Linked DNA regions of Homo sapiens. The protein of the gene in region 1 purifies or fractionates together with the protein of each later gene. This does not show direct contact. Each region holds a gene or a part of one and is shown on either strand. Other genes may lie near its edges.

Region 1 (7,131 bases):
CAGCCTCAACCTCCTGGGTTCAAGCAATCCTCCCACCTCAGCCTCTTGAGCAGCTGGGGCCACAATGCCATGCCACCATGCCCAGCTAATTTTTGTATTTTTTGTAGAGACAGAATTTTGCCATGTTGCCCAGGCTGGTCTTGAACTCCTGGAATCAAGCAATCCGCCCACCTCAGCCTCCCAAAGTGCTGGAATTACAGGTGTGAGCCATCATACTTGGCCTATAATTCATTTTAAAGTTAAAAAAGAAAAAGACTGTTTAAGTAAACACTCTGTGATGTGTGTGAAATCAGAACTTAAATATGGCCATTGACAAGAATGGCCAAAACAGCTGTTTTCTTTCTCAAGCATGCAAGCTCATAAATAAAGCAAAGCTAGGGCCAGTCCCACTTCTTGATAAGATTCCTCTGTTGGCAGAGGTCCTAGAACCACAAAGGGATCCTCCACACCTGCTCCATTCGCCTCACCCACTCATGTTTGCCATTGGGGCATGGTGCTTCCTCTCAGTCACGCAGAGATGAGCCACAAAGGGAGCTGCAAAGCAGCTCAGCGCCCTTAACTCCTCTTTGGAGTTTTATTTTCAAACGACTTCACTGAGTTGAAAAATGAGAGACTGACTATTACTGGGACCCCAGCTGAGCAAACAGACTCCCAATTTATTCTATGTCTGAATTCTCCTATTCTTCCAGTCCTTGGTAAAAATGACATGCCATGAAGCTGCCAACAACAACAATAAAAGATTAAATACCAAACTGCAATGGCTTTAGAGAATGAACAGAATCCACTGTCATCTTTCAAACTCTTGGTCCGTAAATATTAGTCAATGGGATATAGGAAATAGAGGCTGGGCACGGTGGCTCATGCCTGTAATCCCAGCACTTTGAGAGGCCGAGGCAGGATGATTGCTTGAGGCCAGGAGTTTGAGACCAGCCTGGGCAACATACTGAGACCCCCCCATTGCTACAAAACATTTTAAAAAATTAGCCTGGCATGGTGGTGCATTATCTGTAGTCCCAAATACTTGGGAGGCTGAATGGAGAGGACTGCTTGAGCTCAGGAGGTGGAGGCTGCAGTGAGCCATGATCGCGCCGCTGCAGTGAGCCATGATCGCGCCACTGCACTGCAGCCTGGGCAACAGAGTGAGATGCTGCCTTAAAAAAAAAGAAAAAAAAAAAGAGAGAGAGAGACAGAAAAGAAAAAGAAATAGAGTTCTTCCAGAAACAAACCACCAAACAGATAATCTGTATTTAATTTCACTCCAGGCAGGAGGCAGATAATTCATTTTTAATGGGGTAATATGAATTCATCAACATGGACAGATTCATACACAGAATTACAAACACAACTTGCACACATCCTGTAGATATAAACAGTCCTTTGCATACTATGTCCGGGGTTGGTGCCACGTTGCCCCTAGGTGTCCATCAACCTGCTCAGGGGCCGGCAACGCCCCCTGGTGGCTGCCACAAGAACAGTTTAATTCTAATTTCACTTCATTACCTTCACACTCGCCCTAAAAAGATTTATGCACATGCCAAGTTCCCTTTTTTCCGTTCCCATTGGCAAGGAACTTCATCCCATACATGCTCTTTTATATGTGCATTACAAAAGTAACAACACTCCAGAAGTATTAGAAAACAAATTCAGCTGTAATTTCTATCATCGTATCCTAACAACAATTATTTACACAATACTCTGTGCTTCACGCTCCTGTTTGAGAGGATGTTTGACCCATCAGGCTTCCCTGGCACATGAACAAAACTCAGACACAGCCTCAGCTAGGGGGCAAAGCAGTGTCAACACGCAGGCACCCTGGGCAGTATCATTCCCCGAAGCCCCTCATACTTAATGCAGTCAAGAGAGAACCCTAGATTCCACTCCACCTAGATTCCATTCCACAACCCTAAAACTACTCAAGTTTCCCCCAGTGCAGCAAATGGTGTCACCATTCATCTGGATGCTCAAGGCAAAAACTAGGACTTGGCCTTGATGGTTCTTTTTTTCTGGTTCCCCAGACCCACACCACCAGCAAGTCCTGTCAACTCTACTTCGGAATAGCCCATATGTCCACTACTCTCTCCATCTCGCCCGCCACTCCCTGTTTCTTCACCCAGATCTCACCTGCGCCTCCTAACCAGTCTTTCCATTTCCACTTTGCTGCTGTGTCACTGTCCATTCCCAAGAGGGCGGCTACGGTGAGCTTTGAGAAATCACCTTTTTTTTTTCTTCTCCCCGAGACAGAGTCTTGCTCTGTCGTGCAGGCTAGAGTGCAGTGGCGCAATCTCAGCTCACTGCAACCTCTGCCTCCTGGGTTCAAGCAATTCTCCCGCCTCAGCCTCCTGAGTAGCTGGGATTACAGGCACGCACCAGCACACCCGGCTAATTTTTGTATTTTTAGTAGAGACGGGGTTTCACCATGTTGGCCAGGCTGGTCTCGAATTCCTGACGTTGTGATCTGCCCGCCTCAGCCTCCCAAAGTGCTGGGATTACATACATGAGTCAGGAGGTCAGGAATTTGAGACCAGCCTGGCCAACATGGCGAGACCATGTCTACTAAAAATACAAAAATTAGCCAGGCATGGTGATGCTTGCCTGTAGTCCCAGCTACTCAGGAGGCTGAGGCAGGAGAATCACTTGAACTTGGGAGGCAGAGGTGGCACTGAACCGACACTGCATCACTGAACTCCAGCCTGGGTGAAAAGAGTGAGACTCCATCTCAAAAAAAAAATAAAAATAAAACTCCCAACAGCTTCCCACCACACACCTAAAAACTCCCGGCCGGGCACGGAGGCTCATGCCTGTAATCCCAGCACTTTGAGAGGCCGAGGTGGGTGGATTACCCGACATCAGGAGTTCGAGACCAGCCTGGCCAATGTGGTGAAACCCTATCTCTACTAAAAATACAAAAATTAGCCACGTGTAGTGGCATATGCCCCTCCTAAGGCGGAGGTTGCAGTGAGCTGAGATCGCGCCACTGCACTCCACCCTGGGCAACAGAGTGAGACTCTGTCTCAAAAACAACAACAACAAACAAAAAAACTCCCTCCTATGACTTACAAGGTGTTATGTGATCTGGCCCTCCCCACCGTTTTGCATATCACTCTCTGCGTATTTCACAATGAGTCAACCAGCTGGGATTGGAGTGTTGGTTTTTCAAACACTCCAAAGCATTCTGCCTGAGGACCTTGGACTTGGAAGGTCTTCCCCTGATCTCCTCACATCTGGCTCCTCACTATTCAGATCTCAGTTTAGGGGTTACAACTTTACTTACTGATTGTCTATTATACCGTCCTGTCTCAATTCTGTGCATAGCACTTGTGACTATATTTTTCTTGATTATTTATTTATTATGGTTATTGTCTCTCTCCCCTAAAACATAAGTTCCAGAAGGGAGAACCTTGTTTTCCTATTTTTTTTTTAGAGATAGTATCTCACTTTGTCACCCAGGCTAGAGTGTAGTGGCATGAACACAGCTCACTGCAGCTTTGACCTCCTGGTCTCAAGGAATTCTCCTGCCTTGGCCTCCCAAGTAGCTGGGACTACAAGCTCATGCCACCATGCCCGGCTAATTTTTTTAATTTTTTGTGGATATGAGGTCTCATCATGTTGCCCAGGCTGGTCTCTAACTTCTGGGCTCAAGTGATCCTCCCACCTCCCAGAGTGCTGGAATTATAGGCATGAGCTACCACATGGCCAGAACCTTGTTTTTCATGTTTAGTGTTGTTTCCTTAGGGCATAGAAAGTACTTGGCACATAGGAGATGCTAAATAATATTTGTTATTTATTGAACAAATGAACAAGTAGAATATTAAAAATCAAGAGTATGATGATAACTTTCTAAAACTTAAATAAAAGAAAAATTGAAGCTGGGTGTAGTGGCTCACGCCTGTAATCCCAGCACTTTGGGAGGCTAAGGAGGGTGGATCACCTGAGGTCAGGAGGTGAGACCAGCCTGGCCCACATGGTGAAACCCCATCTCTACTAAAAATACAAAAAAAAAAAAATAGCTGGGCATGGTAGTGGGTGCCTGTAACCCCAGCTACTTGGGAGGCTGAGGCATGAGAATTGCTTGAAGCCAGGAGGTGGTGGTTGCAGTGAGCTGAGATCGCACCACTGCACTCCAGCCTGGGCGACAGAGTGAGACTCTCTCTCAAAAAACAACAACACTCATGCCTGTAATCCCAGCACTTTGGGAGGCCAAGGCAGGCGGATCACGAGGTCAGGAGATTGAGACCATCCTGGCTAACACGGTGAAACCCCATCTCTACTAAAAGTACAAAAACAAAATTAGCCGGGCGTGGTGGCGGGCACCTGTAGTCCCAGTTACTCAGGAGGCTGAGGCGGGAGAATGGCCTGAACCCGGGAGGCGGAGCTTGCAGTGAGCCGAGATCGCACCACTGCACTCCATCCTGGGCAACAGAGTGAGACTCCATCTCGGAAAAAGCAAACAAACAAGCAACAACAACAACAAACCCCACTAAATTCTGTAATTCTGATTTTATGCAAATACTGTCTATGAAGGGTCCACAGAATTACCTAAGCAACATTAATTTGTTTTCACCTTTTTTATATGGATAATCTCAAAAAAAAGAAAAATTGATACTGAAACCACTTCAACTTGAAAAATTAACAAGCCAAAGTCTCAGCAAAACATATCCCAGGAATTATATTAATTTTTTTGCTATTTATTTTCCATTCTGAATTAATATGTAAGTTCCATGAACATGGAGATTGTAGTTCTAGTGCTTTGGACAGAATCTGGCACATGGTAAATGTTTAATAAATATTTCTTGAATGAATTTCCTTTCCAGTCTAGACAATAAAATCCAGTGAGTTTGATTTCAGACGAGATTGGGTGCGTTCAGGGTGGTATGGCCATAAAAAGTTTGATTTCAGATAATGTGATTATAATGGGAACTTAATAACAAATATACTAGAACTTTCTATATTAACACAAGTCTTCACCCTTTCAAAACAATCACCCTGGAGACCTGTATACTTATTCCAGTGTTGCCGACCTTGTTCTAAAGAGGTGCTTCAAAAACGTTTCATACAAGGTTTGTGTGTCTTTTATCTCATGAAGGTAAAAACAGAAACAAACCAGAACAAATACTACCATGGCTTTCATTGGAAATCAAATTTTGGTTTAATAAATTGAATTTCCAGTCATGAGATTTTCTGATATGTCTGGTACCCCTTCTGGTAGTTTTATTTAGACTCTTGTAGAAAATCTTTCACATGAACCAGTCTTAAATTATTCCAATCACAAAAGAAAAAGTATAATGCTTTCATTACCTGTAATTATCCTGTAACTCATAAGTCCTTTTGCTGGTTTCAATGGACAGGCTTCCTCGTTGGGACAGAAAAATAGGTAGCAGTTGGGTTGTCTAGCTGTTTTTCGAGTGTCGAAGATCATCAAGTTACATGCTTTGTCCCCTGCAATGAAAGGTTTCATAAGCATGATTTTGAAATGCGATTTTCTAAAGAGTAGGGCAAGTAGGAAAAACTTCACTTATTATGGAGTCCAACACAAACACCTTTGTTCATTTTGTTCACTTGCTTGCTGACCGCTGAATCATTTCCTTTTCCTTAGCTTAGTTGCTTAAGGCAATTTTAAAAAACATTGGGTTTAGCTTTTTTTTTTTCACAAGGTGGCACCGAAGGCGAAGAAGGAAGCTCCTGTCCCTCCTAAAGTCAAAGCCAAAGCAAAGTCTTTAAAGGCCAAGAAGGCAGGGCTGAAAGGCATCCACAACCACACACACACAAACACACACACACACACACACACACACACCCCTAAGACCTGCATGTCACTTACCTCCAGCAGCTCAAGACACTGTGGCTCCAGAGGCAGCCCGAGTATCCCGGGAAGAGTGCTCCCACATGTTTGACCACTCTGCCATCATCAAGCCCTGACTACTGATGTGCTATGAAGATAGAAGACAACCACACACTGGTGTTCACTGTGGATGCCAGGGCCGGCAAGCACCAAAGAGGCTGTGAAGAGGCTCTCTGACACTGATGTGGCCAAGGTTACACCCTGAGCAGGCCTGATGGAGAGAAAGAGGCATGCGCTCTGCTGGCCCCTGCCCACAATGCTTTGCATGTTGCCTACAAAACTGGGATTATTTATTTTTTTTATTTTTTATTTTTTGAGATAATGTCTTGCTCTGTCGCTCAAGCTGAAGTGCAAATGCAGTGGCATGATTTCAGCTCACTGCAACCTCCACCTCCCAGGTTCAAGAGATCCTCCCACTTCAGCCTCCCGAGTAACTGGGACTACAGATGCAAGCCACCACACTCGGATTTTTTTTGGTATTTTTTGTAGAGATGGAGTCTCTCTATATTGCCCAGGCTAGTCTTGAACTCCTGGGCTCAAGCTGTTTGCCCTAGTTGGCCTCTGAAAGTGCTGGGATTACAGGTGTAAGCCACTGCACCTGGCCATCTCTTGGATTCTGAAAGCATCTCAGATGCCTAATAAAGCCATGAGTGGAGTCAGTAAATTATCATAGATATCATGGCTCCTTCCACACAGGATCTGAGTAGTATATGGAATACAGTCTATCTTTTAATTTTTATCTGTACCATTCTTTGTGTTTTTCTTCCAATTACCCCTCTCTCCTTGTCATATTTGCTTTTCTATGTTCCTTCCTTCCTTACTTTTCACTGTTAACTATAATTTCTGGTCTCTTTTCTTTTCTTTTTTGAGTCAGGGTCTTGCTCTGTCATCCAAGCTGCAGTGCAGTGGAACAATCATGGCTCACTTCAGCCTTGACCTCCTGGGCTCAAACAATCCTCCCACCTCAGCCTCCCCAGTAGCTGGGACTTCAAGCGTGCACCACCATGCCTGGCTAATTTTTTGTTTTTTGTAGAGGCGGGGTCTCACTATGTTGCCTAGGCTGATCTTGAACTCTTGGGCTCAAGCAATCCATCCCCCTCAACCTCCCAAAGTACTGGGATTACAGGCATGAGCTAATGCACCCAGCTGCTGGCTTCTTTTTCTGTTCCTCTTGTGTCCAACAGAAATTAAACCCTCTATTCATCATGGCCTAGATTTGATTTTGTCCTCCATTTGGTACAGTCTCACATCTTTGGGAGGTCAGCGTATCCCTGGTCAGGCTGAAGGTTAAG
Region 2 (7,510 bases), on another chromosome or scaffold:
CTCTCAAAAAACTAAATAAATAAAAATTTAAAGAAAGCTCTATTCTGCCGGCATCACTGATTAGATCATTGTCCACTGGTGATTGGCACAATCTCCAGAGGTTGGAGCACGGGGCTGAACATTCGAATCCCCTAATCACATGGTTGGTTCTTCTGGCAATCAGTCTCCATCCTGAAGCTATCTAGGGGCCTATCAAGAGCCCTCTCATTAACAGAAACTCAGGTAGGGGTGAAAGAGACTTGTTATGAATAACAAAAGATGCTCTTATCACCATCTCTCAGGAAATTACAACGGTTTAAGAAGCTCTATGTCAGGAACTTGGGACAAGACCAAGTATATATTTCTTCTTATCACATGACTGCCGTAGGACTCTCACACTTTATGGTTTCTCAACCTAGGCTACTTCTCTGAAATCTGAATCATTCAGGTCTCTACTCAAATCCTACCTTCCAAGAGAAATCATTCCCTGACCACCTACTTAAAACAGCATCTTCCTCTCCACCCATGTCAATCCCTATCTTATTCCCTTATTCTGCTTTCTTTTCTTTTCTTTTTTTTTGAGACAGGATCTTGCTTTATCACTCAGGCTGAAGTGCAGTGGTGGGATCACAACTCACTGTAGCCTCAAACTCCTGGGCTCAAGCCATCCTCCTGCCTCAGCCTCCCGAGTAGCTGGTTCGACAGGCACACACCATTATGCCCAGCTAATTTTTCTTTTTTTTTTGTATAAACGATGTCTTGATATGCTGCCAGGCTGGTCTTGAACTCCTGGACCCAAACTGCTTTATTTTCTTCATAGTACTTACTAGTACCTGAAATAAAGCTATTGAAGGAAACTAAAACATTTCACCTCAAAACAGACTTATTGGAAATATTTTGAGATGGCCGTTCAGAGGGCCTACAGACAAAAGTAGTCCTACTGTGAGGGAGATGAGCATCTGTTGAGAACCTCCATTGACGCAGCCAGTTTTTCTCAGAGGGCCCTTCCTTGTCTGGATCTGGGTGAGATTAGCTGAATTTGGCACCTTCAAGGTCTGAAACATTTCTTCTCCCTGAGGGCTGCTACCTGTGAGGTTTCATCTACATAAGACCACCTTTGCTAGCCAGGTCTCCTCTTCTCTCCCTCCTATAACCTGATTTACAACCATAACCTGTTTTTGGCCAAGCTTAGAGCCCCCACACTTTCTGTAACCTCAGGATAGTATAATTGTGGCAACCACCTTGCCTTCCTTTGAGATCTTATGTTGTAAGACTCTCACGGCACGTTAGTAAATGTGTATGCCTTCTCTCCTATTAATCTGCCATTTGTCAGTTGATTTTTCAGTGACGCTTCACGGGGCACAAAAGTTTTCCCTTAACTCCTACGCTATACATTTGTTTATCCCTTTTTTTTTCCTATCTCCAACTAGGATGTAAATTCATGAGGGCAAGGTCTCGGTCCTACCTAAATCCCCAGTGTCTAAAACTTTGAGTACTATGTGTTTGAGCACATAGTACACACAAAAAAATTTGTTGAATAAATGTTGATAACAAGATATAATACCTACATCAAAGGGTTTTTGTGAGGATTAAACGCGAGAGTGCACATAGAGGGATATGAGTGCCTAACACAATGCCCAGCACACAGTAAGCTCAATAACGCTGGTCAACGCTATTATCAGAGGATTCCAGAAGACAGGTCAACATGGGCAGGAGCAGTTACAGAACGTTTCAAGGAGGTGGCAGGTCTTGAGCTTGATTTGGAAGGATAATGATTTCTTTCTCTAGGTGGGGACACTGTAGGAAGTTGAAATCTCCTCTGTACAAGCCACCCCTCCCAACATTTCTTCATACTCCTATCAAATGCATAGTCATCATACCCTACAAACCACCTACTAACCAGCCTCTCTCTGTCTGTCCACTAATCCGTTAGTTTTCATTTCTGTATCACCGGAGCCTAGATGAATTCACTACTAAAGGGCACCCAGCAACGTCAGTGAATTAGTTTCAGAAATCTGTGGAAAAGAAACAGCCTACTGTTCTGTCCAGCAATCCAGGCCTAAGTATCTATCCTAAAGAAATAGTGTCAGCATTAAAAATCATGTACAAAGATGTTCACTTGCAAGAGAGAGAGAAAAAAAGTAGCAAACAGAACGTCCACCACTAGGAAACCATGAATAAACTATGATGCGTCCAAACTGTGCAGAGGTTGCACTGAATTAGACAGTTAGTGAAACAATCTCTAAGATATATCGTTAAACTGAAAAAAGAGAATGCACATACAGTGATCTCATTTAGGTAAAACAAAAATTTTAACACCTCATACAAATGAAACCTAAAGATTTCTCTGAATGTGTGCATATTACATATAGATACATGTCTTGTTAACCACTGTATCAACTCAACACTGTGTGCCTGAAACATAGAAAGTTCTCAATAAATATTTGCCGAATGAAGACATATGTACGTGAATAGAAAAAGACTGAAAAATAGATCTGCTTTTTGTGCAAAATATTTCTGTGCTGTTTCCATTTTTAAAAGACTGTCTTAATGTATTACTTGTACAATTAAAATGAATTTAAAACAGTTATAAAAGTTCCAGGACCTCGATATACCATATCTGGTCCAAGCACCAGGCTCTGAGTAACTTCTCCAGGTAACTAACTTCATCGTTTTGAGCCATTAGGGCTCTAGCACAGCAACTCGACGCTCACTTTATCTCTCCAGCATCAGACCCCTTAAAAGCATAAAGATGAATTTTGAGGTGCGGGGTTTTCCATTGCTCCCAAACATCAGTTGACGGCACACTTTTTCTAAAGGGTCCTTTTCTCCCACGCCAAGACATCCCTGGAGCTGGGGTCTGGCTCGGCCTTCCCTGCGCACCCCCTGGGGGCGAGTAAGCGCCGAACGCGGGGAGGAAAATCCTCCTGGTGGGAGTGAGCACGCTGCGCGGACGCGGGGGAACAAAACTCACTTTCCGACTGGCCCCTTCTCTGGCTGTGATCTGTCTCTCCTGCTCAGGCATCGTCCCGCACGGACACCGAATTCTTCTCTGATCTGGCTCAGAGCAAAAGGTCACCTGGTCGGTGGAGGAGAGCGGGGTGTTAAAGTCCCGGGAGAGGAGGCGCAGAGTGTGAGGGCATCGGCGCGGCTCGGCTCTAAAGCAAACAGGGGTCCGGGAACCGCCCCTTCATTTGGGACCGGGGAAGCCGCAGCCCTCTTCACACGGATGATTCAAAGTTGCGCGCCGCCGTCCTCCCGACCTGGGGGCACGGGGATGAGAGCGTGAGGGGAGAGTGGGCCTCGGACCCTCGCCCACTCCCCAGGTGGCTGGGAGTGCCCACCCTGGAACTGCCGGCCCCGCCGGTGCCACAGTGTTCTCTGCCGTGCCAGTGCCACAATGTCCTCTGCCGTGCCGGCGCCGCAGGGCGGAGGCCTGTCCTCCTCCGCGGTCTCGGCCACCTCGCGCTGGTGCGCTCCGACACTGTACTGGGATCTCACGCGTGTGCGGGAGCGGGAGGGCAGGTGAGCTGCGCAGAGCCGGGCCGCAGACTCAGCTCCCAGGGCTCACCCACCGCCTGCGGGGAAGGTGCCCGGCGGCGCCGCGTCGGGTCCGCTCTGCGCTGCCCCCTCCTCGGACTCTGCGCCTGGCTGCCGGACGCCGTGGGTCCCAAAGGAAGCAACCGCGGCAAGAGTGAACTCCGCACCTGGAAAATCGATCCGCTGTGCGCAAAGGCCAGCCAATGGCCTCCAACGGGCGGCGGGCTTTGGGCCGGGAACGGGGGCGCAGGCGCCCAGGCGGGGGCTTCTAGTGGGGGAGGTGGCCGAGGGAGGGAGCGACGGCTGTCAATCACAGGCCACGCCCTCCTCAGCCCAACCCCCCACTGCTGTCCCGCCCACGGGGGCGGGAGCCGTGTGCGCCACGCCGAACACTAGTCTACGCCTCGGCATATTCTATTGGCTGGAAGGCCGTGGGAAGCGGCTACCAGTAACCAATAGTAACGCACAATTGGCCCGTGGGGGCGGGGCGAGCACGGCTTGCTTTCTCAGGAGCCAATAGGGAAAAGGAAAGTGAAGCGTTTCCTGAGTTCGGGGGTCGGCGGAAGATGGCGGCCGGCGAAAGGAGCTGGTGCCTGTGCAAGTTGTTGAGGTGAGCAGCCGGTCGTGTGGGCTCACAGACGTTTTCTCTTCTGTAGGGGTACTTGCCCGTCCAGTGTAGCTAAATTTTGCGGGCAAATGGCCTTCCTTGTCATGAATCTAAGGTAATTTCTCAGGCCAATGAGCAGTCTTTCTTTTTCTTGGGGGTCTTCTATATAGACTGGAATAGACTAGGTCTTAAAGACTCAATTTACCGCGTTTTCTTCTGCTTCACTGTTGGCCGAGGGGTCGAGTTCCCTTCCCTGCTTCAGCTTTTTTTTTCCCTTTCACACTCCAGTTAGTCTGTCATAAATTATTCATATTCATTCCTTATTTTTCTTTACGATTGAGCCACGAGACATTTTCCAATCTATCATGTCTCTTTTCGGTAAAGAAGAAACCGGATCTTCCTTCTCATCTTAGTTTCTACTCTTAAACTCACCAAAACTGCCATTGTTAACACGTCACTTAAATATAAAGCTTATGTTGAATCCTCTGCTTTTTGATAATCTGTTACTTTAATTTTTATGATGTAAGAAGTTACATAAAATATTATTTTATTTGTATTACGTGTATATGCTGTTTCTTCTAGAAAAATTAGAAAATAGATAAGTAAAAGGAAAAAACCCCAGGAATGCTACCATCCGGAGATAGCCACTGTTAACATTTTGGTGAAAAAACTCCCAGGCTTTTTTCCACCTTTGTTGTTGTAGTACTACTGTATTTTAAATGCCTTGCCCTCCACTAATAAAACAGAAGGCCTAGTATATTCTACCTACCTAGTTTTTTTACCACCTACATATTTTTGTTCAGGCTGAAAATTTATAATTAACACCATAGCTTCCTGAATAGCAGTATATACCTAATTCTTTCAAAAGTTCAGGCATTTCTTCTTCGTTTTTGTCCACTCTACTTCAAATTCTGTAATCATTACTTTAAACATTTTGAATGAGAAAGTCTGTTATCAGAGCCTTTTGGTTCTTCCCTGTCATACGTAATATTCCTCAGTGCTTTACATTATAATGTTTAAATAAACTCACTAACCAGACTTAAAGGACAGGTTTAACTTTAGTTATTATGCAGCTTTTAAGTTAAATGTTTAATAGTTCAGTTTGAAAAGCTTGTCACATGAATTTTCCCACCTAAATTATTTGAAGGAATTGCCAGAAAAACCTTTACATTATATGGGTCAGCTGCATTTTAAATAAGCTTTTGAAAGAGTGTCCTGAGAAAGCAAACTGTCCTCTGTAGTGTTGCTTTTATGAATTCATATATTCCAAATGTTAAATAAATGATAAATCTTACCACTTTTGTCAGACTCTGTTCATCCTTTAAGGCAGTGGTTCTCAAATTGTGCTCCATGGACCATGCAGGTCCCAAGGCCCTTCAATGGATCCTCAACAAATCTGTTTTTATAATAACATTAATGTAATATTTGCCTATTTTACTATGTTGATAAGTGCAAAAGTGATAGCGGATAAAACTAAGTGATAGTGGATTTTAATTAACAGTGTGAAAAGGTCATTGATAGGGTTTCAGAGTCTGTATTGCAACTGACATTAAGAAACTGCATAACTTGTCAAATGTGGTCTAGCATCAGAGAAGAATATCTGTAACTAGCTGAAAAGTTAAATATATTTTAAACATAAGATCAATATATATTAAAATATACTCCCTTTTCCTACTACATGTCTAAGTTAGCCTGAATTTTCTTCATATACTTCAACAAAAACAACATATCACTAGATTGAATGCAGAAACAGAAAGGAGGAGCCACTATCTGGTTTCACGTTAAGCCAGACATTAAAAAGATTTGCAAAAAGTGTAAATCATTGGCACCCTTCTTGCTAAATTTCTTTTTTTGGTTTGGAAAAGATAGTTTTTTAATAAAAATATGTTAATGTGTTATGAAAGAATTTTTATTTTCAAATGAATTCATAAAAAGTTTAAAGTTCTTTAGTTTTCATTTCTAATATGCTAAATATTGGTAGATATAAGCAGTGTAAACCACTGGTTCTCAACCAGGGGTGATTTTTGCCCTTCGCAAGACATTTGGCATTTGGCAATATCTGGAGGGCTTTTTTTTTTTAATTTTTTTTTTAGAGATAAGAGTCTTGCTCTGTTGCCCAGGCTGGAGTGCAGTGGCATGATCATAGCTTACTACAGCCTTGAACTCCTGGGCTCAAGCAATCCTCCCACCTCAGCCTCCCAAAATGTTGGGATTACAGGCATGAGCCACCATGCCCAACTGATAATTTTGATTGGGAGGGTGCTACTGGCATCTAAGTGGGTCAAGACCAAAGATGCTACTAAATATAATACATAGGACAACCTCCGCAACAAATAATTATTTGGTCCAAAATGTCAGTAGTGTCAAGGATGAGAAACTCTGATGTAAACAAAAGCTCTATTGTATCCTCAGTAAAATTTTTAAGAGTATAAAGGTGTATAAAGAATATAAAGACCAAATTATTTTAGACCAATTATTTCAGCTTTGAAATAAAGTGCTCATGTGGGATTTCAAATAGAGTCAAATACCTCTTCAAGTACACAGTAGGAAATCCCACATGAGATTTGTTCACAATAGGAACAAATGAGGATTTGTTCACAATAGGAAATCCCACATGAGAACTTTATGTCAAAACTAAATATCAATAAAATATTTACTTCTGGCCAGGTGCAGCAGCTCATGCCTGTAATCTCAATGCTTTGGAAGGCCAAGGCAGGAGGATTACTTGAGGCCAAGAGTTTGAGACCAGCCTGGGCAACATAGCAAAACCCTATTTCTACAAAAAACATTTTTTTAATTAGCTGGGTGTGGTGGCATGCACCTGTAGTTCCAGCTTCTCAGGAGTCTGAGGCAGGAGGATCGCTTGAGCCAAGGAGTTTGGGGCTGCAGTGATTGCTATGATTGCACCACTGCACTTCAGCCTGGGTGACAGAGTGAGACCCTGTATCTAAAAAAAGCAAAATTTACTTTTCTGATGAATTTGTATGTTTTCATGTGGGCAGTGAAAACTATGTGATATGGTTTGGCCGTGACCCCACCCAAACCTCAAGTTGAATTTTATCTCCCAGAATGCCCACATGTTGTGGGAGGGATCCAGGGGGAGGTAATTGAATCATGGGGGCCAATCTTTCCCATGCTATTCTCGTGATAGTGAGTAAGTTCACGAGATCTGATGGGGTTTATCAGGGGTTTCTGCTTTTGCTTCTTTCTGATTTTTCTCTTGCTGCCACCATGTAAGAAGTGCCTTATGCCTCCCGCCATGATTCTGAGGCCTCATAGCCATGTGGAACTGTAAATCCAATTAAACCTATTTTTGTTCCCAGTTTCGAGTATGTCTTTATCAGCAGCGTGAAAATGAACTTGGTACCATAAATTAGTACCAGT
Region 3 (7,131 bases), on another chromosome or scaffold:
AAAACTCTGTCTCAAAAAAATAAAAATAAATAAATAAAACCACTTGGATGGGAATAGACATAAAACTTTAGGTAGGTGAATGTACAGGAAGTATTGTTATGTAAATTAATAATCAGCATTTTCATATTTCATAGAAATAGCAGGCAAGAGAGTACCTCTGGGTTTAGGTAGTTTCTGGGGAAAAAAAATGAACTGAGGAAAAGTTGCTGTCTCAATGCTAGCTGTCAAGAGATGCTTACTGGGTCCAGGCACCGTGGCTCATGCCTGTAATCCCAGTCCTTTGGCAGGCTGAGGAGGGCGGATTGCTTGGGCCCCCAGGAGTTAAGACCAGCCTAGGCAACAAAGCAAGACCCTGTCTCAGTTTAATTAAAAGAAATTTGATATCTTTATTAATTTTTTTTAAAGAGAAGCTTACTGGAAGAACTTGTGGGGAGTGCTTTTTGTGCCCCTAATCTGAAGTTATTTATCAAAACCAGTCTCTGATTCCAGCCCCCACCACCTACATTTCCCCTCCCAGCTTACAGGAAACCCCTCCCAAGGCCTTTATACTGTGGTTTGGGATTGTGTAAGGTTCAGTAGAGCCCTTTGAGGTGGAAGACTTCCCCTTCCTCACCAGCATTTCACCTTTAGGGGCATGAAACTGACTCTCTGTGCCTCCTCCATTCTTCACCCCAAGTACTATGTGACTTAATCTTTTTATCCTTGGGTGAGGCAGAGAGAAGGTATCCCTAAACATACAAGCACTGTGTATTCTTAGTATGTTGTGTGAAGGGGCAGGGTGTGGGGTAGGGCAGAGGAATTATCTCTGTCATGGCTATGAGGGGGTTACTGATGTGATGCCTATTAGAGTAAGCTAAAGATCATCATATTAATAACCATTAGCGTAGATTTAACATTTCTTTCTCCACCTCTTATCCTTCTTTCTCCTTTGTGCTCTCCCTTTCTCTCTGTCTTTCCTCCCTTCCCTGTCATGATCTGTTTCAGGGAAGCTGACTCCACCCATGTGTTCAATCCCACCAGTCTTCCCTCCCAAGTCTGGAAGCCCCACGACCTCTTGGTCTCATCTGGTCACAGCAAGTTAGAGGTGGAAAGAGCTCAGCACGGGGCCCTTCTGTTTACACATATACTGCCCATAGCCAGGAGTTACTGCACAAACACTAGCCAGCCTTCTACACTACATTCCTTTTCCAAGACTTTTCTGGGTTAGTTTGCTTTCCAGCCCACTGATTTCCTTCTTATTGGACAGGTCACTCTTTTGCATCCCAAGCCTGGCTTAGGCAAGTCCCTGAGGTTAGTAAACACCTTCAGTGCCCCTCAGCCAAGTCCCTTTTGACCATGGAATACCATCAGCCTGAGGATCCAGCCCCTGGTAAGGCCGGGACTGCAGAAGCAGTCATCCCTGAAAACCATGAGGTTCTGGCAGGCCCAGATGAGCACCCTCAGGACACAGATGCAAGAGATGCTGATGGGGAGGCTAGAGAACGGGAGCCAGCAGACCAAGCTTTGCTGCCTAGCCAGTGTGGGGACAACCTTGAGTCCCCTCTGCCTGAAGCTAGCTCAGCTCCACCGGGGCCAACCCTTGGGACACTGCCTGAAGTAGAGACAATAAGGGCATGCTCCATGCCCCAGGAGCTTCCTCAGTCCCCCAGGACCCGACAGCCTGAGCCAGATTTCTACTGTGTCAAGTGGATCCCTTGGAAAGGAGAACAGACACCCATCATCACCCAGAGCACTAACGGCCCTTGCCCTCTCCTTGCCATCATGAACATCCTCTTTCTTCAGTGGAAGGTAAGAGAACATGCAGTTAGGGGTGCAAAAAATATCAGGGAGTACTCTTCCCTGACTTACTTCCTTGATCATCCTGATGTCCTCAAACTAGTCAAAACTTTTCAGATTGTTCTCCCTATTTCTCCAGCTTGAGCAAATGAGATAAGATGTTCCTAAAAACAAAGAAAAAAAAAAAAGAGGAAGATCTGTCCTACCCCTGTATCTCCTACTCCCTAGCAAATGCACATGCCTTGCAAGATTTCACATTCATTCCCTTGTGCCAGTTGCAAGCCTTTTTTCCTACCCCACCCTACTACTGGAGCTCCCCCTTGCCTTTCCATGGGTTCTTCCTTCAGTGCTCTTTGGAGGAAAGCACACACGTGATCACCCCTTCTGCCTCCAGGTGAAGCTCCCCCCGCAGAAGGAAGTGATCACATCGGATGAGCTCATGGCCCATCTTGGTGAGTGACTGGGCGTTGAAGAGGAATTACCCAAGGGGCTCCAGAGCTATCCACTCAGCCAGAAATCCAGACTATTCAGGGATCTCCATTTGGGGGTTCTGATACAGCAGGGAGGGTAAGGGTCTATGGGGCTTCTCTGCAAGGCTGGAGAATGAAAAGCAAAGGCGTCGGGAGTCCTGGGTTGTAACACCAATTCTGCCCTTAGCTTTTGTATCTGACCCTGGGTGGGCCGTTCACCTTTATGAGGCTGTCGCCTCCTCTGAGAAATGAAGAGTCTGGATTAGACTCTAAGTATTTTCCAGCTCTGAAAATCTGTGTTCTGTGACATTACCCGCATTCTCCAGGAGAAGAGGAAACTTAGCTTTTGGGATGATTGGTGGGGTAAGCTGATAAGGGGCCCTGTCTTGTAGGAAACTGCCTCCTGTCCATCAAGCCCCAGGAGAAGTCAGAGGGACTTCAGCTTAATTTTCAGCAGGTGAGGCAAAAGGTCTGCAGGCATAGGGGTTTGCAGGTTTGTAAGGGGACATCTTGTAATACTAAGATAAGCTTTTGTTGCTTCTTCAGAGGTTTCCTTGAACCATGATTTCATTCTGCAGGAGTCAGAGGAGAGTTTATCTTTGTCCTAGAAAATATGTTCATTGGCCGGGTGCTCACACCTGTAATCCCAGCACTTTGAGATGCCAAAGCGGGAGGATCACTTGAGGCCAGGAGTTCGAGGCCAGCCTGGGCAACATAATAATACCCCTGTCTCTAAAAAAAACCATTTTTTTTTTCAAGAATTAGCCAGGTATGGCGGTGCGTGCCTGTAGTCCCAGCTACTCAGGAGGCTGAGGTGGGAGGGTCACTTGAAACCAAGAGTTTGAGGCTGCAGTGAGCTAGGATCACACCACTGCACTCCAGCCTGGATGAAAGAATTAGACTTAGACTCTCAAAGAAAAACAATGTTCATTTATATAAGATAGAGAAGGGTTGAGGCAAGGGAGAAATGGAGTGGCTTGTAAGAGAATCAGGGAAGAAGAGCAGCAAGGTTAATTTTTAATTTCTGCAGGTGGGAGTGGAGTGGTGGGAGAGAAGGCTAGAATCTCCATCATTTTTTTTTCTACCCCCAGAATGTGGATGATGCAATGACAGTGCTGCCTAAACTGGCCACAGGTCTGGATGTCAATGTGCGATTCACAGGCGTCTCTGATTTTGAGTATACACCCGAGTGCAGTGTCTTTGACCTGCTAGGCATACCTCTGTACCATGGCTGGCTTGTTGATCCACAGGTGAGGGTGGGAGGGCCCACTGGGACCTTATCCAGCTCAAGCTGACATGAGAGAGGCAAATTTTTGTCGGGTAGAGGTTAGGGAGTTAGGGGTTAGATTGGCTTGGGAGGGAAATAGTGTTTAGAGACTGGACCCAGTACAGAATTCCTTGAATTTTAATCTATTTTGGGGGTAACATGCAAATACAAGCAAACTACATGCAAATAGGTCAGTTCTTTAGACATCAAAAATTCAGGAAGCAGATGGGTTTGGTGGCACATGCCTGTATTCCCAGCTACTTGGGAGGAGTTCGAGGCCAGTCTGGGCAACATAGCAACCCTATGATGAATGGTTCCTGAAATTTTTTTCTTTTTTGAGAGACCAAAAAAAAAAAGTGTTTAGGAACCATTCATCACAGGGTTGTAGTCCTTGTGAGCTTTGTTCATTTCCTTCCTTAAAAAAGAAAAAAAAATCCCAATTTTTTTGGTATCCCACATCCCACTACCCAAGCAGAGTCCTGAGGCTGTGCGTGCAGTTGGGAAACTGAGTTACAACCAGCTGGTGGAGAGGATCATCACCTGCAAACACTCCAGTGACACCAACCTCGTGACAGAAGGTGACATTCCTCCCCTTCTCATGGATAGTATGTGGAGGGAATGACAGCTACTTAGGCTTATTTTTTATTGGGTGTCATCTCCTACCACATCCCACTAGATATAAGCTTCACAAGAAGGAGCTTGGGGAATTTCTGTTTAGTTCATTGAGGTATCCCCAGTGCCTGGCACAAGGTAGCTGCTCTATTATAAGTATTTGTTAAGTGAATGAATACAGCCAGGTTTCAAGAAAGGGACGTCAGAAGGTGGGACTGACCCCCCGGGGCTTTTGACAGGGGCTCTCTGGATGGTCCTTCCTGTTGTGGACCTTGAATTTAAGCCAAGTTTCCCCCGACTCGTCCCTTTCTGGCAGGCCTGATTGCAGAGCAGTTCCTGGAGACCACCGCGGCCCAGCTGACCTACCACGGACTGTGTGAGCTGACAGCAGCTGCTAAGGAGGGTGAACTTAGCGTCTTTTTCCGAAACAACCACTTTAGCACCATGACTAAGCATAAGGTAATGCGAGTTTGGGGGTGGCGTGCTGCGGTGCTGTCATTTCCTGGTGCCTTTTTCTCGTGGGTCCAGCTGGGATCAGCTAGATTAAGCCGTGGTAGCAAGTGACCCCTCAAATCCCTGTGGTTTACCACAACAAAGGTTCATTTCCCGCTCCTGGTGCGTGTCCACTGTGGACTGGCTACGGTTCTGTCCCACACCATCTTCACTCTGGGACCCAGCTGACAAAAGATCCTTTATCTGGAATATATGTGGGAACAGAGAGAGAGAGGGGCACTGTGCACTCATGCTTAGAGCTTCTGTTTGGAAATGACACATGTCATTTCTGCTCACATCTTCTGGCCAGAGCAAGCCATAAGGGATAAGCCTGCCGTCGATGGGACAGGAAAGTATGATCCTCCCCTAGGAGGGGGCAGTGGAATTTTTAAACAATGCTGGTCTTCAAAAGTTAGAAACTGCCAAAGCTCTCTAGGATTTGAGCAGCAGAGGGAGGGGTCTCTGGTTCTCAAAGGATTTATCCTAAGAGCCATCAGGCAAGCCCAGAGAACAATGGGAAATGGGGGGAGCAGGGTCTTATGTGGCATCTCAGCCCCAACGACTCCATGCCACGCTTAGCCAGAATGACCACCGTGCTCACACCCAACTGGACATACACTCAGACATCCCTTTCTTCCCCCCAAGGCCACACATATTTGTAAAAGGTCCGCATGCTCAGGGTCCGGGTGCGGTGGCTCATGCCTGTAATCCCAGCACTTTGGGAGGCCGAGGCGGGCAGATCATGAGGTCAGGAGATCGAGGCCATCCTGGCTAACACGGTGAAACCCCGTCTCTACTAAAAAAATACCAAACATTAGCCAGGCATGGTGGCGGGTGCCTGTAGTCCCAGCTACTTGGGAGGCTGAGGCAGGAGAATGGTGTGAACCTGGGAGGCAGAGCTTGCGGTGAGCAGAGATTGTGCCACTGCACTCCAGCCTGGATGACAGAGCGAGACTCCATCTCCAAGAAAAAAAAAGTCCACATGCTCATACCGAGATTTCTGGCAGTGAACTGCCTCCGTATCAACTGTCCCCCCAATGAGCTCTGTTCTTTTCTTTGTAGAGTCACTTATACCTACTGGTCACTGACCAGGGCTTTCTACAGGAGGAGCAAGTCGTATGGGAGAGCCTGCACAATGTGGATGGAGACAGCTGCTTTTGTGACTCTGACTTTCACCTGAGTCATTCCCTGGGCAAGGGGCCTGGAGCAGAAGGTGGGAGTGGCTCCCCAGAAACGCAGCTGCAGGTAGACCAGGTGTGTAGGGCACTTAGGAAAAGTGCAGAGAGCACATGTGCCTCAGAGAGCTTTTTACTGCATACATTTTAACTGCTAGAGGCCATGTGAACCCATGCCTCTCTCTCTGGGTTACCTCAGACCGTCTCCTCACTTGGTGTGTATTCTCTGGCACCACAGATAATGCATTTGGCTGTGTGTGCTGCTCTGTGGGGAGAAAGAGCTAGAGAATTTGAGGGATGTGGGAAAACTGATTTGGAAACCTTGCCTGAATAGCCACGGCTCTGGGCCTCAGCCCACTGCACAACTCTTGTTCTCCCCAGGACTACCTGATTGCTCTGTCCCTGCAGCAGCAACAGCCACGAGGCCCGCTGGGGCTTACCGACTTGGAGCTGGCCCAGCAGCTTCAGCAAGAGGAGTATCAACAGCAGCAGGCAGCGCAGCCAGTGCGGATGCGGACGCGGGTCCTGTCACTGCAGGTGGGCTGCTGCCTGGGCGCCCACACTCCCGGTTTCCACCTCATGCTTTGCCGGGTCCAGAACACCTGTTATTCCTGCACTGGTCTCTTCAAGGTTTCTTCTCTCAGAGTCCTTCCCCTGCCTGTCCCTCTCCCCTGGAGCCCCTTCCTGTCTTCCTCTCCCTACTCTCTGTCCCAATCCTGACACCCCTTCTTCTAGAATCTCTTCTTGTGCTCTTCCAAGGAAGTTCAGTGACCAATTGTTAAATCCGATACAGGGGAGAGGAGCCACATCTGGACGCCCAGCCGGGGAGCGTCGGCAGAGGCCGAAGCACGAGTCAGACTGCATTCTGCTGTAGCTCTGCCCCAGTGCCAGGCTGGCCTGCCCCTTCTTCCAGAGGCTATGGCTAGTTGGCTTGCTCCCCCGCCTCCACCCCTGAGATGTGCTGGATAACTTATTTATGGACTGTTGGGGATGAGAGCAGGCAACAAATGCCAAGGTCAGACTTGGTAATGTCCTTGACCTCACGTGCTGCTGCCTTCTCTGCCTCCCATCCAGGGCAACACTAGGATTGGTGGGTTTCTGGTTCTCAACTCCCGGTCCCTGAATAGTCACACGTATGTACAGACTGAGGCTCTGGGGTGAGGTCCCTATCCAGAATGCATCTCTTCTGCTTCCCATCCCTGCTGCCTGGATGCTCCTGATCACCTAGGCAGGCCTGTCTCCAGTTGTTTCAGAGCTTAATTTGGGTTTCTATCTCTTATTTGTAATGCCTTCCTGGGGTTTGGAAATAAAACTTCTGGCCGGGCACGGTGGCTCACTC
Region 4 (7,131 bases), on another chromosome or scaffold:
ACTCTGACCTGGCACATGATCCCTAGAAGGGGACCTGCTCTGAGGCAGATTTGGTCAAGGGGGCAACTGAGGCAAGGAAGTAGAGTCTTCTAGTCTAAAAATAATGAGCAGCATTATTATTGAACATTAACTACAAAACAGGCGCTGTTCTGGATTTTTTTGGTGCATCTTCTCACTGGTGAGAGGTTGGTGTCATTATTACACCCCATTTAACAGATGAGGAAACTGAGGCCCAGGGAGGCAGAGTCACTGGCCCAAAGGCATACAGCTCATCAGTGGTAGAGCCAGGATGGAGCACAAGCCTTTTAAGTCATGAGCTAGTCCTTTAACCACTAAGCCAGCACCCCAGGATTGGGGAGACACTCAGTCCTGGACTATGGTTGTGGCCCATCTTATCCTGCGAAAAGGGCAGGGACCCTTCCACCTGCCTCCCCCAACTCACCCAGAAGACAAATCACCGCTTGCTTTTGAAGAAACGGGCTCAAAATGTGGAGCATCCCTTCGAGGAAGCTCCTGTCCTTTCCTCTCCCTTCCTCTCCCACCCTCTTCTCCCCTCTAAGTTCCTGAACAGCCACGGGGTGGGGGAGGGGCATGGGGAGAGTGGGGTGCAGGTCGGAGAGGGAGGTGCCTGCTGCATTCTCACCAGACCCCTAGCCCGATAGGATCTGGAAGTCAGGCTGTCCTGATGACGACACCAGCTGCCCTTGAGGGCCCTGACATGGTCACTGGGCCAAGGGGCAGGCTGGCCTATTCTCAGAGTCGAAAAGGACAGGAATTCTTCATGTTCTGCCCATGTGAATGACCGTCGAGACAGGAAAAACCTCCCAGTGACTTCTGAGCGGTGATGGAGGCCATCAGAGGGCCTGATCCCCTTGCCCACAGCAGCAGCTTCAGACCCCCGGGGGAGGAGCCCAGGAATGCCTCCTTCTTGCCACCTGCTCTGCCCTGACCTCTCGCCCTCTTCAGCACAGTAAGGAATGTTCATATTTGTCCCTAAAGCTTTGGAAATGTTTCTGATGAAAGGTTGGGCTTTCCTCTGCCTTTCTGGAAATTGGGCCCCTTCAAAAAGAAAGAGTAGGAAGATAGGACCTGTGTGCCAGTCCAGGCTGAGGGGTGGCGGGTCTTGGGGATGAGGCAGCTTGAGCTGGGGCCCAGCAGGGACCTGGAGTGTGGCCGCTGTGAGGCAGGGCTGGGAGGGGCCCTAGAGACCACATTCTCATTTTCTTAGACAAAGAAACTGAGCCCCAAAGACAGGGCCTGGCTTACCAGTGATGGCAGAATCTGCCTGTGACCTCAGCTGTCCTGTCTCCGAGCCCAGTGACTCAGGACACACTGCCACCTTCCAGCTCCAGGACAAACCTTCCACTACCAGATCTCAGGGCACATGTTCCTGGAGGTTCTTGGAAATGGGGCGTGGAACCTTTCTCAACTGCAGAGCTGTGTCATGGAGACGGGGGTTGCCACTGCCACGGGACTCGCATCCTGCGCCTGCCTCTCCCGGCCAGTTCCGCTCTGTCCTCACTCTTTGCAGCAGCCTGGACACTGAGCCCAGTGGTGATGCTGAGATGATGAGGAAGACGGATGCTGCAGCTCCGCCCTCCACTGGCTCAGGATCTGCTTGAGAGACAAGACTGACTAAGGCAGCCCCAGCCTTTGGAATAATGATGCTCTCGAGGGATGGCCTGATAGCAAGCCAGCTGGAGCCAGCCAAGGCCCATCCACCGGGTAGCCTCGCCTCAGCTTCCTCCTTAGCTGTGGGCCTCCGATGAAACCTGCACCCCAGAGGCCGCTGTGAGGATGTCAGTAGTGCAGCCGCTTTCATAAAGCCTCTTTTGTGTCCCATGACTTCTAGATTATCTCTCTAGCCCCCGGACAGCCTTGTGACTCAGGGACCACCGCCCCATTTACGGTGGAAGGAAGGGAGGCTCCTTCAAAGAGGAGTTTGTCTGCCCAAAGGCACGAGCCTAGTAGTGCAGAGCCAAGATCTGAACACAAGTCCCTTAGTCCCTAAGCCTCTCCAGTACAGCCATTGACAAGTGGATTCACTGCCTGATGGCCCAGGCAATAGATTCTGGGCTAGGGGATCTCTAGACTCCATCCTGCCCAAGGGGCCGACGGCAGCCCTGGGAGGGACCGCAGCTGGAGCGGATGACGCAAGCTCTGGACCTTCTATTCCGTCCCGCCCTCCAGGGAGCAGAGATTCTTTCTCCTGCCTCCCCTTCTCTCTGGCCGGGGGCCTGAGGCTCTGGCTCTCACTGCCAGCACCCCGCCCCCCAACTCTGTGTTGCCCTGTCCCAGACCCCATTTCCAGCTATTTTGTACTAAAGCGATAACAGAACAATGGGTCTCCCTGCATCCCTCCCCAAGTCCTGCTGGAGTCGCAGGGCCTTAACCCAAGGGAGGCTGGACCCCAGAGAGGAGTCCAGATGCTGGCGACCACCAGGGACTTTCCGGGGGAGTTGCCATGGGGAAGATGGGTTAGAGCTCAGTTCACGTCCACCAAACGCCCCCCCACCCCCACCACCGCACACATTGCACACACACATCAGCTTCTCTTAGGATGTCCAGTTAAAGAACAGTTACCTTGGCTTGAATTCCAGCTCTGCCACTTACCTCAAGGGACACTCGAATAAGTCACATGAGCCTTCGTTTTCTCATGTGTAAGATGGGGGTGATAATATGGCCATTCTCATAGGGTTGTGGTGGGGATAGCAGGGGATTCATGGTCTTGAAGTACTTGCCCCGCTCCTCCCAGCCCCGGGGTAGGTGGCCCTGGGGGCAGTCTTCCTTATGAGGGGTGGAGGAACAGGTGTGCTGCCTGCCCCTATCACAGAAGCTCTTGTTTGGAAAGGCAGTGGCTCCTTGGCTGAGGTGTGCAGCAGCAGTGACTCCCCCTTGACTCACAGGGAGGCTTGGCCACTGATGGATGTTCTGGGCCCCTTCCTCTTCCCTCCCTCATCTTCCCCACTCCCCCAGCCAGTCAGGTTTCCTAAGCCAGCCCTCACGGGCATAGTCTTCATGCTGGGGACAGCTCGGCAGTCCATCTGTTTCTATAGAAACCAGGCTTCCTGGGAAAGAGACAGGGGGTTGGGGAAGTCCTCCAGGATCTGCATGGGAATGACGCCTCAGTCCCATCTGATCTGGCCAGGGCAGAGCCTGGGCAGCCACCTTATTCATGTTATTAATTGCTGTCCTTTACAGAGTACACACCAGAGGCCAGGCTCCTCAGCTGCACTTTCTTATCATCACACATCACAAACCTGTGGGCTTTGTACAGAAGTAGTAGTCTGGTTTCACAGATGAGGACATAGAGGCTCAGAGAGGTTAAGTAACTTTCCTGAGGTCACAGAGCAATAAAGAGGAGCAGGGATTTGAGCCCAAGTTTTCCCAATCGTTACAAATATGCTTACCACCTCCCTGTCTGTCATCCTCTTCTGACTCTTGTATCCCCAAAAAGCCCCTCTCTTCCTGGCTGGTTTAGTCTTGGGGACTTTGCTTGTTCCCGCCTCGCCCCTGGGAAGCATGTGGAGGTGCTCTTCCCTGGCCTCAGATTCCACAGCAGATGGGGAGGTGGGAGGGACTGCAGGGAGTCAGATCTTGGCTGAAGAGGGCCTCTTAGCTCCTCCCGACTCATTCATTCAATCACAAATGCCTGTTGAACTCCTCCTGTGCCCGGAGTTGTCCCAGGCTCAGAGAACAAGACCCAAAGAAATCCTTGCCCTGGGGCACTCCCCTGCGAGTGATGCCACAGCTTTCTGAGGAGGTGGGGCAATGTCAGAGGCCAGTGTTCTCATCCAGTCCTCTAACCTTCACGGCTGTCCAGACCCCCCACTGCCAGGTCCTCTGCCAAGAGCATTTGCACCCCATCTCCTGGAGTCTTCAGCACCCCATGAGTAAGGCAAGTAAGGCGCTGTGGTGTGATCCCCATTGTATTGAGGGCTGAGACTGCTCGCTTAAGGCCACCTGACCAACAGAGAGTGGCCACTTTTGAACCCAGTTCTGCCTAATTGGAAAGCCCTTTCCTGCCCTATGCCACCAGCTTCCATGTGGCCTGGGGCACAGCCTCCCCTCAGCCCGCCACGTCTAACCTGTGGGCTTCTGAGTGTGCTGGTTGGGCTTAGCCTGACAGCTGCTCATTCCACCTGTGTTGACAAAGTGCCTGCTGTGCACCCCAGCCTCACGGGGAGATACACGGAGGAGCACAGTACAAGCCATACCTTCAGACTGGTTGGTCTTGGGGAGTCAAACTGCCGTGAAATGACCAGGAGTAGAGGCTATAAGTGGCCAGTGGCTGCAGACACTGAGACCCGTGAGAGTCCAGAGGAGGATGAGGACCCAGTGCCCTGGGAGGGCCCTGGGAAGAGGGGCTGTGTGCAAGATAGCCTGGAGGAACAAGGAGCATGGTGGGGGGACAGAGTGTCCCAGGGACCTTCTCACTTGTGTAAAGGGTCAGCAATGAGAACCACTGTTGAAAGGTTTGCTGGCTGATCGGGAATGTGGGCGAGAGCAGCTGGCAGGGCAGAAGGGAAAGGTTCAGGATCCCAGGCCTGGGCCCTAGGAGCCATGTCCTCCCTTCTTGCCAGACAGGTGATGTGGGTGGAGGAGTGGCTGTCCTTGCTGCCCCTGCCCCCAGCCTCCTGCAGCCTGGCTCCTGGGGGAAACCCCCGGGGGCCCTTCAGAAGGCAGTGGGGCAGAGCAGGAAGCTTCACAGCACTGATGGCAGGCTTTTTCCACTGTGCACGGCTGAGTGGAGAAAGGGAAGTGGAAGGAGGGCCAGACTCCTCCCTGGGCAGGGCACTTTCCCCATGGGTGCCCACGTGCACTCCTTCTTTCTCTCTCCACCAGCACGTCTGCGAGGTGAGCGTTCTCACTACCCCCATTTCACAAGAGGGGAAACTGAGGCTAGGAGAGGTGTAGTGACTTGCACAAAGCCATGCAGCTGGCAAGAGGGCAGAGCCAAGACTCAAACCCAGGTCCCCTGCCCCCAAAGCCGGGGTTTGGCCATAGTGCACGGTGGAGTCTTCTGTCCTCACTTAGGCCTGAAATAAACACCTGGAGTGGCCCTGAAGGGGAGGAAAGGTCAAGGGGAGACCTCAGGGGTGTGTGCAGCTTGCCTCGCCAGTGGGGCAGGTGAGGGGCTGCTGGGTGGATCTGATCATTGCAGGGCCCAGTCCTGGGGGTGAAGTAGGGGTGGAGCGCCGTTCTCAGAGCAGTTATCTGTGCTGGAAGGTGGGTGTGGGGCCCTCCTCCCTGGAGGTCAAGATTCCATTTTCTCTGTGGGGCCACATGGGCCCTTTGTGAGTGATGCCCTCCCTGCTAGGGTGGGCTTGGGAGGTGGGCACAGTGGTTCCCACCAGCTCAGATGTCTGATGGCAGTGCCCGTGGATGAAGATTGTCCCACCCATGAGTAATTCTGTCCAGGACACTGTAGTGCCCACTCTTCCCAGCCCCAGCAGGTGGGCACTGACACGTCCCACAGCCGTTGATTTGCAGCAGCTGTTGTTGACTCCGTCCTGGGATGCAGAGGGGAATGCTCTGTGTGTGTATGTGTGTGTGTGTGTGTGTGTGTGTGTGTGTGTATGGTGTGTGTGTGTGGTGTGTGTGTGGTGTTTGTGGTTTGTGTGGTGTGTGTGTATGGTTGTGTGTGGTGTGTTGTGGGGGTGTGTGTGTGTGGTGTCTATGGTGTGTAATGTGTGGTGTGGGTGTGGTGTGTGGTATGTGGTGTGTGTGATGTGTGTGGTGGGTGTGTGTAGTGTGTGGGTGTGTGTGGTGTGTGGTAGGTGTGTGGTGGGTGTGTGTGCGTGGTGGGTATGTGTGGTGTGTGTGTGTTTTGTGTGTGCATTGTGTATGGTGGGTGTGTGTGATGTATGTGTGGTGGGTTTGTGTGGCGTGTGTGTGCACGTATTGTGTGGTGTGTGTAGTTTGTATGGTGTGTGTGTGGTATGTGTGTGGTGTGTGTGGTGTGTATGTGTGTGGTGTGTGGTGTGTGTGTGGCGTGAGTATGGTGTGTATATGTGGTGTGTGTGTGTGTGTACTGTGTGTGCAGTGTGCGTGTGTGTGCATGTGTTGGTGGAGAGGGGTCAGCAGGCAGAGGAAAGCAATGCATCCAATGCCTGGAAGCTTCTGCCCCTCGGAGGTGGGCCGTGGACACAGCCTGGGCCTGGTGGGCAGTGGCTGAGCGCCAGCCTTGTGCCCGGGGACTGAGATCTGGGGCTTTGCCCAGTGGGGCGGAGAAGTTAAGAAGTGTTAGTTAGATCCATTTCCTACTCCTCCATGGCCTCCATCCTGGTGCCACTGCCACATGGGAGGCCTGGGGAGGGTGGCAGTGTCTGTGTCTGATAATTGCCTGTCTTCACTGGGGACTTGCTGTGGGCCAGGCACTTCCCCATGGCTTCATGGAGATTACAGCTTTTATTCTCACAGTATCTCTATAAGATAGGACACCTTATTTTCCCAACTACACCTGGGAAGACTGAGGCACGTAGAGGTTAAGTGACTGACCTGCCCACGGGCACACAGCCAGGCAGTGATGGATCTGGGATTCAAATCCAGGGAGCGTCCTCAGCAGTTAAGCACTTACCCATTAGGCCTTCTGGCTTGAGCAGTGAGCTGGCTCTTTCTAAAGCACTGTCTGTCCATTATTTTGTTTCTCCTGAGACCAGCTGTAGGGGAAAAGTGAGGTTGGCTGTTTTCGTTTCACAGATGAGGACCCCGGAGCTCAGAGAGGAAAAGTAACTTGCTCTAATCAGTGGCTAGCAGATCAGCGCCCCCTCCCCCGGCCAAGGCTGGGAGCTCTTTCAGGATAGGGGGCCTGTCCCACCACCCATGTACCTTGCTCACAGTAGACCTCACTAAGTGCGGATTCCTCAGGCAAATGTGCAGGTGTTTTGCTGAGTGCTCTGAGCTTTTCTTTTTGCCCCGGGCTCCCTAGGAAGTGGGAATGATGGCTCCATTTCACAGATGAGGAAACCGAGACTCAGAGCACAAGGCCACACAGCAGGAAGAGGTAAGGCAGGACTGAGGGAGGCAGCACGTCTGGCCTGGGAGAGGGGTTAACCAGCCAGGAGGAGCTCGTAGAAGGGCTGAAATAAAGACCGACCTTACCGAGTGTTGGTGAGGATGTGGAGGAAC

Evidence for each region.
Region 2: the proteins of MANSC1 (region 1) and ATP7B purify together in Homo sapiens (affinity purification with mass spectrometry; 2 studies listed by BioGRID and IntAct, with this or other methods). This does not show direct contact.
Region 3: the proteins of MANSC1 (region 1) and MINDY1 purify together in Homo sapiens (affinity purification with mass spectrometry; 2 studies listed by BioGRID and IntAct, with this or other methods). This does not show direct contact.
Region 4: the proteins of MANSC1 (region 1) and TP53I11 purify together in Homo sapiens (affinity purification with mass spectrometry; 2 studies listed by BioGRID and IntAct, with this or other methods). This does not show direct contact.

The regions. Positions count from the first base shown.
Region 1 is NC_000012.12:12,333,125-12,340,255, forward strand, and holds part of MANSC1 (MANSC domain-containing protein 1 isoform 1 precursor), read right to left. Parts: intron 5,437-7,131; coding exon 5,296-5,436; intron 1-5,295.
Region 2 is NC_000013.11:52,008,334-52,015,843, forward strand, and holds the start of ATP7B (copper-transporting ATPase 2), read right to left. Parts: upstream 3,118-7,510; 5' UTR 3,005-3,117; coding exon 2,954-3,004; intron 1-2,953. Other genes in the region: ALG11 (GDP-Man:Man(3)GlcNAc(2)-PP-Dol alpha-1,2-mannosyltransferase), read left to right, coding at 4,086-4,129. UniProt on the Homo sapiens protein: Copper ion transmembrane transporter involved in the export of copper out of the cells. It is involved in copper homeostasis in the liver, where it ensures the efflux of copper from hepatocytes into the bile in response to copper overload.
Region 3 is NC_000001.11:150,996,822-151,003,952, reverse strand, and holds the end of MINDY1 (ubiquitin carboxyl-terminal hydrolase MINDY-1), read left to right. Parts: intron 1-984; exon of another isoform or gene 985-1,246; coding exon of another isoform or gene 1,247-1,335; coding exon 1,336-1,788; intron 1,789-2,123; exon of another isoform or gene 2,124-2,170; coding exon 2,171-2,228; intron 2,229-2,638; coding exon 2,639-2,703; intron 2,704-3,337; coding exon 3,338-3,496; intron 3,497-3,985; coding exon of another isoform or gene 3,986-3,988; coding exon 3,989-4,091; intron 4,092-4,441; coding exon 4,442-4,584; intron 4,585-5,679; coding exon 5,680-5,871; intron 5,872-6,173; coding exon 6,174-6,329; intron 6,330-6,585; coding exon 6,586-6,666; 3' UTR 6,667-7,118; downstream 7,119-7,131. UniProt on the Homo sapiens protein: Hydrolase that can specifically remove 'Lys-48'-linked conjugated ubiquitin from proteins. Has exodeubiquitinase activity and has a preference for long polyubiquitin chains. May play a regulatory role at the level of protein turnover.
Region 4 is NC_000011.10:44,940,878-44,948,008, reverse strand, and holds part of TP53I11 (tumor protein p53-inducible protein 11), read left to right. Parts: intron 1-6,931; exon of another isoform or gene 6,932-7,006; intron 7,007-7,131.